2 linked regions of the Homo sapiens genome follow. The protein of the gene in region 2 interacts with the protein of the main gene of each other region in a biochemical or structural test. Each region holds a gene or a part of one and is shown on either strand. Other genes may lie near its edges.

What was found.
Region 1: of the proteins of ATG4A (region 2) and GABARAPL2, one has a biochemical effect on the other in vitro, tested with the Homo sapiens proteins (one study listed by BioGRID).

What each region holds. Positions count from the first base shown.
Region 1 is NC_000016.10:75,569,201-75,573,117, forward strand, and holds part of GABARAPL2 (gamma-aminobutyric acid receptor-associated protein-like 2), read left to right. Parts: intron 1-3,917. UniProt on the Homo sapiens protein: Ubiquitin-like modifier involved in intra-Golgi traffic. Modulates intra-Golgi transport through coupling between NSF activity and SNAREs activation. It first stimulates the ATPase activity of NSF which in turn stimulates the association with GOSR1.
Region 2 is NC_000023.11:108,150,703-108,154,619, reverse strand, and holds part of ATG4A (cysteine protease ATG4A), read right to left. Parts: intron 2,819-3,917; coding exon 2,762-2,818; intron 1,642-2,761; coding exon 1,533-1,641; intron 979-1,532; coding exon 908-978; 3' UTR 1-907. UniProt on the Homo sapiens protein: Cysteine protease that plays a key role in autophagy by mediating both proteolytic activation and delipidation of ATG8 family proteins.

The sequences.
Region 1 (3,917 bases), on a different chromosome or scaffold from region 2:
TCTGGCCATTTTTTGGTCTGATTTCCTCTTTCCCAGTGTCCTCCACCTCTACTTCCTGGTGTCTGATAGAAAGGCAGGGGAGAAATGGAAGCTCCTTCCCTAAGGCCAGTATTCAACCTGAGGAGACACCCCAGGGCCTGCCCACTGGACGCCATTGGTCTGCCACAGCTGTAGCTCTGGAAGCTGTGGTGTTGCTTGAGGAGATCTTGTCACCCATGGGGCTCTTCTAACCTTCCTTCCCAGGCCTCTGGGCTGTGTCTTCACCAGGGGAGGAAGCCTTGGGCATCCGTGGTTACCCTGGGCTTTCCTTAACGTGTTTGGGGAGGTAATCTTCTTTCATAACATCTGCAACTTCTACAGAGCCTTGGTGACTCTGTGTTTTGTACTTCCTGGAGGTGTTGGCTTAGTGGGAGAAAATAAGTGACTAGGACCTATGGCATTGAGTTTATTTTCCTCAATTCTGATTCTCTGGTTCTTCTCAAAGGAAATGAAGCAGGCTTCTGGAGACCTTAAGATTACTCAGATGGCTCCACAGTAATCTAGCAATTAAAATGGCTACAGGTCTTATCAACTTCCCCTCCCCCGTTATCCCTGAGATAGAAATAGAATTGGAAATGAAAAATGATTTTTCAGGGCAGCAGAGACTGTTTCAAGCCATTTTCTCTCCAAGTCCCATTTGCCTTTCCAGTGTGGTGAGAATCAACCCTAAAGCAGATTACACTGGTAACTCAAGTCAGGATTTTAGGGCCGAGTAGCCAGAAATCCAGCTCCTGACCCTTCAGGATTTAGAGTCACCAGCTAGGGCCCTTTTGCCCAGGCTGTCAGCTCTTTGGCCCCAGTTAATGACTTATCACCCTACACTTAATGCAACTGTTTATTTTGGGGTTTTATTCTCAGAAGTAATTTTTTTTTTGAGACAGAGTCTCACTCTGTTGCCCAGATTGCAGTGCAGTGGTGCAATCTGAGCTCACTACAATCTCTGCCTCCTAGGTTCAAGTGATCCTCTCACCTCAGCCTCCCTAATAACTGGGACAGGACCACAGGTGCATGTCACCACACCGGGCTAAAAATATAAATTTGTTTCTAAACATAAGAGGCGTGTGACATCATTGGGCTTTATGCAATATATAAATCACCCATAAACATAAAAAGTGCTACAGGGTCCTTCCTAAAGCTGGCTGTGATTCAGCTTCACCATCTCTTCCCCAAGACAATTTAGCAGCCTCTTCCTCAGGTCTTTTCAGCTTCCTTAGGGGAGCATGGAGCCTCCCTTAACCTTCATGCAGTGCTTGCTGGCTTCAAAGAGTGGCTGGGGAAATTAGAGAAGGGACGAATTCAGGCCTGCAGGAGCCCTCCCTCTCCGGTGACTGACTGGTCTGCATGAAGATCAATTATGTCTGAGGCTGAAGGGGAGTGAGTTCTCAGTTATTTCTGCCTTGGAGTGGAAAACAGGCGGTCACCATGTAAAGTGTCATGATTTTTATTTAGAGTAGTTAGTATTAAATATTGATTCTATAAATAGAGACAGAGGCAAGTCCCTAAGTTTTACTTCCTAAATTCTAAGTTCTTGTTTCATTTAAAAAAGAGGGAATCACAATGGCCTTTTCCCATTTAGCATTGGAAAGTTGAATTCTCTGCCTAGGTGCCAGCATCAAGAATCAGGCCAAAAACGGAATGGGGAACCATGCCTTTGTTCAGACAGAACTTCAGAAAAAACATCAGTGTACAAGTTTCCTAGTCATGACGTTAGAGGGGAACTCAGACCTGGCAGTGAATGGTCTTTGGTCTTTGTTTGTTTAGAACATAGATAAGAGTCTTGTTAATCCCCTGTTTAAAATAGAAACAGGAGTATATCATTAAATATAATATCTCTAAGATATTATTTTTTATTGTTGTTGAGACAAGGTCTTGCTCTGTCACCCTGGCTGGAGTGCAGTGGCACAGTCATAGCTCACTGCAGCCTTGAACTCCTGGGCTTGAGAAGTCCTCCTACCTCACCAGGTTGGTCTCAAACTCCTGGCTACAGGTGATCCTCCTGCTTTGGCCTCCCAGAGTGCTGGGATTATGGGTGTTACCCACCATGCCTGGCCAGATATTATAACTGACATTGGGAAACCTGTGCTGTTTAAGAATATGGTGTTTATTTGCTTCTGGATCTTAAAGAGATCTTCAGTAAAAGGAAGTTGTGATGTTTTGGAAATGAAAAGTGATTTTCAGGGCAACAGAGACTGCTTCAAGGCCATTTTCTCTCCAAGTCCCATTTGCCTTTCCATTCTGCTGAGAATCCACCCTAAAGCAGATTATACCAGTAACCCAAGTCAGGATTTTAGGACAGAGTAACCAGAAATCCAATTCCTGACCCTTCAGGCCCAATTAATGACTTCTCACCCCACACTTAATCATCCTTTATTTAGAAATGTGCTTAAAGCACTTTGATCATTTCTGGGTAAATACCTCTTTAAGGACAGGACTTTTTTTTTTTTTTTGGAGACGGAGTTTCACTCATGTCGCCCAGGCTAGAGTGCCCAGGCAGTGGCGCGATCTCAGCTCACTGCAACCTCTGCCTCCCAGCTTCAAGCGATTCTCCTGCCTCTGCCCCCTAGTAGCTGGGATTACAGGCGACTGCCACCACGCCCGGCTACTTTTTTTGTATTTTTAGTAGAGACGGGTTTTACCATGTTGGCCAGGCTGGTCTCTTAACTCCTGACCTCAGGTGATTCGCCGACCTTGGCCTCCCAAAGTGCTGGGATTACAGGCGTGAGCCACTGCTCCCGGCCTAGTTGTTCTTTTTATCAGATAAATATGTTCTGTCCTAGGCCGTGTGTGGTGGCGGTCGCCGGTAATCCCAGCTACTCGGGGGCTGAGGCAGGAGAATCGCTTGAAGCTGGGAGGAGGAGGTTGTGGTGAGCCAAGATCACGCCACTGCACTCCAGCCTGGGTGACATGAGTGAAACTGTCTCAAAACAAAAAAAGGAACAACAACCAGTGGTTAATCTTTTTATTTTAGAATCTTGGGGAGCCTCAGGGCCTTATTAACTTTCACTGTGAAGCCAGTGCCTCTCCAGGATTGACAGTAGTGGTCACTGCCCTTCCACCTCCCACCACCCATCCTGCCCTGCTGGAGAAGAGATAATCCAAGGTCCAGTGGAAGCGCGTGGACTCCAAAGCAGATGGGTGGCCAGGTGTGCTCATCAGCCCAGCCAATTCATGAGTCGGTGTAGACCCCACAGCCTCCATGACCTGCCCTTGGTTGGGGCGAACGTAGGTTCTCTAGGGATTGGGCATCCATACAGTTCTAGGTCAGCCTCTCCCAATGCATAGCGCTGTTGGTAGCATAAACTGATGTCTGTCTTGAGTCACATGGCCATTCCTGGATGTAGGTCTTGCTGCAACTTTCCTTTTTTTATTGCACAGTTTCTCCACTGGAGAAGTGGTTTTACCTGGATCTGTGTCATTCAGTGGAGGGGTTGGGGAGAGGGCTTTAGGGGGCAGTTTAAATTCATTTTCACATAGTACTTCAGGGTCCCACTTCACCTTAGATTAGCTCCATGGCTTGAATCTACCACTGGCTTTACCCGTTTCTTTCTTTGCCAGACTCAGAGCTTGGAAGGTGGCAGTGCTTCTGTACTCAGAGCAGCATCTTTCTCAGATGAATGCGTGTGGTACTTGATGCCACAGGGTGTGCATTCGTGTTAGGGACTGGAGGCCATCTTCAGGTGTTCTCTACAGCCACCTCCCAGCAACTTAGGCAGCAAGCCTTGGAGCTGCAGTGCTACTTGCGAGTTGTCAGGGCATCCAGCAAGCCTGTGCAGCTTAGCTGGATAGATGCATTAGAGCTGCCTCTGTGCTGCAGGATCCTCAGGCATCCTAGCAGTGGCCTGCTCAGTGCTGTGTATAGCTCAGGCCTCCAAATTCTG
Region 2 (3,917 bases):
AATTTAAGTCACTGATTGGCAAGCTACAGCCTGCAGGCCAAACCCAGCCCTCCACCTGCTTTTGTAAATAAAGTTTTCTTGGATTACAGCCACACTCATTTACACGCATATTGTCTATTGCTGCTTTTGCATGTCAACAGCAGAGTTGAGTAGATGTGACAGAGGCCGCATGGCCTGCAAAGCCCAAAATATTTCCCGTCTGGCCCTTTACAGAAAAAGTTTGCTGACCCCTGATTTAAGTGATCATGATTTAAGGACAGGGTGATATCTGACAAAAGTATCAGTAAGAATGGGGACAGTGACCCATCAAATAGTAAGATCCCCGCAAACAGAAGGGAGATCAAGAAGTGTATATTTGACATCGTTTCTTTGACAAACGTTTTGATATAAATTATAATTACTTCAACTACACAATCAAATAATTTAACAAGAACCTTTTCCTCCCTGATTCAGTCACTTTATTATTTGAGCAAGAGAACAGATTGCTGCTTAGTCCAAAAGAGGTCACATCTGAAAGGGTGAAGAACAGCTTAACCATCTCTTATCTGCTGGTTCTTGAAGCAAGCTGAGAGTTGCTGTTTGTCTTCCAGATGCCCATTTCCTCATTGCAGCAGCTGAAGACTTGCTGTAGCCATATAACACAAGCTGGGAAGCAATGAACTCCTCCTCATCTCTCTGCTCCTAGGCTCCATGATTGTTCTATTTCTTTCCGGGGAAGGGTTACTGTCATTTGTTTTGTTTTGTTTTGTTTTTCTGAGAAACAGTGATTGGCTCAGTCATGATTGCTATTGAGTTTGTATGCTATTGGCATATCAGGCACTTGCTGACTAGAAAAGTTTTATGCAATAAGTTCATGTTTTTATGGTGCCAGATGGAAGACAGACCTTCAAGTTGAGTTCCCAGGATTCTACACACTCAGAATCTCAAAATCTTCCTCCAGATCAAACTCCTCCAGTTGCTCAGTAGAGTCAATGAATTCTATCAGAATACGGAAATGAGAAAGAAGAAAAGCTTGACACTTGGGTTGAAGTGGTCAGTAAATACTTTACTCAGTAGTTAAGACTAAGCATTTTTAATTGCTGTACTAAAGAAAGACTTGTGTGGAGGAGACTTACAATTAGAACTACTGCCAAGTATTAGAAATTATCTATAAAGACTCAAAATAGCCAGACTTGTTACATAAACCTAACGACGGTGATGTGGCCAAGGCTCTGAAAGCCCTTCAAGATACCTTTGAATTATCGATGGCCTCAATTTGCTATTCTGAACCAGACCATGAAAAAGCAATCCTAGTCATCTTGATTTTGCATAGAACTTTTGCAATGAGCTCATTTTCTTCTATTATCATTCTTTGAAATTGGTAAATATCAGCTCATCAGAAGATTAAAATAACCAGAAGTGCCATTTTTTTATCACTCCAGCTGAGTAGAAATTTTACTGTCCACAGAAAGCATGGGCCACAATTCTTCTTTCTCATAAAACAACTGCTATATGTGGGTCTGCTAGCTGAGAGCCATTGAACAACAGCTTACCTGCCCCAGTGGTTGTCACTTCTGGCTTGGCTGGAGGTACAAAGGGAGGCCAGTGTGATGGATGTTTCTGAACTAATTCAAACATCCTTAAATTCTCCTTTAGAATTTCCTGGGGAGATGACAAAACAGTTTTAAATACTTCAGAGTCACAACATTTCTAATTGGCAATCTTTGACCCCAAACCCTGAGACAGTGGTCTGCTGGTTTCCAGGTGAAAACAGGGGCCTAGAAAATACATGCATCCTCTACTTGAACCATCTGAAGACTCAGCCATCTTCAATTCTAGATACTGTTTAGCCAGGAAGGAAGGACTTTGCGGGGAGTATCTGATGAAGGCCAGCACTCACTGCCTATTCTCCATCATGAGGCATAGTGCCTGTGCCAGACGCATGGGTCCAGCTCACTTTAGGGGTGACATGTTCCTGAAGCACTGGCTCCAAAGAAATGTCAGTTAGTGAAATTAAATCTGCCCCAAGAGACTATTGCTACATATTGGCATGGTTTCAGTGGCAGTCCAACATGTATGGTATATATCCTAATTTACATGGCATAGTCTTAGCTGGGCACGGTGACTCATGCCTGTAATCCCAGCACTTTGGGAGGCCGAGGTGGGCAGATCACCTGTGGTCAGTTCAAGACCAGCCTGGCCAATGTGGTGAAACCCTGTCTCTACTAAAAATACAAAAATTAGCTGGGCGTGGTGGTGGGCGCCTGTAATCCCAGCTACTCGGGAGGCTGAGGGAGGAGAATCGCTTGAACCTGGAGACGGAGGTTGCAGTGCACCCAGATCCCGCCACTGCACTCCAGCCTGGGTGACGGAGCGAGCCTTTGTCTCAAAAAATAATAAAATAAAATAAAAGGCATAGTCTTATCAGAAAATTCTCATTCCACCTTTAAATGTGACATAAATACAGTTTTGCTGCATTCTAAAATGTAAGTATTGCCTTTAGAAAATAATTGTCTATTAATGAGATAAAACATTAGGTTTCATCACTAAAAATATCACTCCCTTGACATGCTAAGCATATTTCAAACCAAAATTTTTGTTCAGTTTCCCCGAAGTTATGCACAATTCCCCACACCTGATAGTTTCTTTGTTGCCTTAGTTTCTTTCTCTTGCAGTAAAGTCGTATCAGAGTAGGATTTTTTTTTACTATGAAAAACAATCTTGAAAAGGAATAAAATTGGGTAACTTCATTTTTCAGACTAAGAAAAACATATAGCTTTACCTTCTGAACAAGGCTACACCAGTTATCAAAGTCTTTTTCTTCTTTGCAGAAAAATCCCTTGGGGGAAAGCAAAAGAACACAACTTAGAATTACCTTTGGTATTGCACAATGGAGCTGTTGGCCCAGAATTAGGATGTGGGCCAGTCTCTGTGGATGTGACTTCTCAGCAATAAAGAAGGAAGACTGCCTGGGCTTCTCTCTCTCCTAACTCATTGCCTTACTCAGACATACATATCACTCTCTCAGTCTTGCTCTCATTCTCACCCTTGCTCTCTGTCCCTTTCCCTCTTTCCTCATGCTGCGAGATATTTTAACTTGAAGATCATCTTCAAAGTGTAGGGTTAATTCCATTACTTTCAGTGTACAAATACACACATCTCCAAAGAACATTCAATTAAGCCAACAAACAAAAGCCAAATGGTACTTTTAGCTAGAGGCAATACTTAAGAAGATGGCATTGACCTTCAGGAAATTATCTATCAGAATAGAGAGAACCATCAGTCTGTGCTTTCTCAACCTCAAATCCATCCCAGAGTAGTGAAAGAATGGTTCACAAGAGGAGGACTTGCAGCTCCTGGTCACTGGTATACTGACAATTGGATTAAACTAGAGGAGAGGATGCAGACAGGCCTCAGAACCACCAGCTACTTCACAGGCAGATGCCCCTTCAGTGTGTGTAGACACCAGCCATACTTCTGGGGGAAAATCCTGCAGCTTCCTAGATTGTGTGCACCCAGGGCATCTTGCTCCCTTATCTCTCCCTAGTGATATCCCATCTTCCTCCCTGTGCCTGGGTAGCAATAATTTGAGGACAAGAAGGAAACAGGGGAAAGAGTAACTAACATTTATAGAATGCTTACAATGTGCCAGGCCCAGTGCTAAGTGCCTTACATGCATTGCACCTCATACAACCCCATAAGGAACGAACTATTGTTTTCCTCATTTTAGAGATGAGAAGACTGAGGCTCAGAAAGATTAAGTGACTCCTCCTAAGTGCGTAGTTAGTGATACGGTTTGGTGGTGTCCTCACCCAAATCTCATCTTGAATTGTAATAATCCCCACGTGTCAAGGGTGGGACCAGGTAGAGATAACTGAATCATGGGGGTGGTTTCCCCCATACCATCCTTGTGGTAGTGAATAAGTCTTATGAGATCT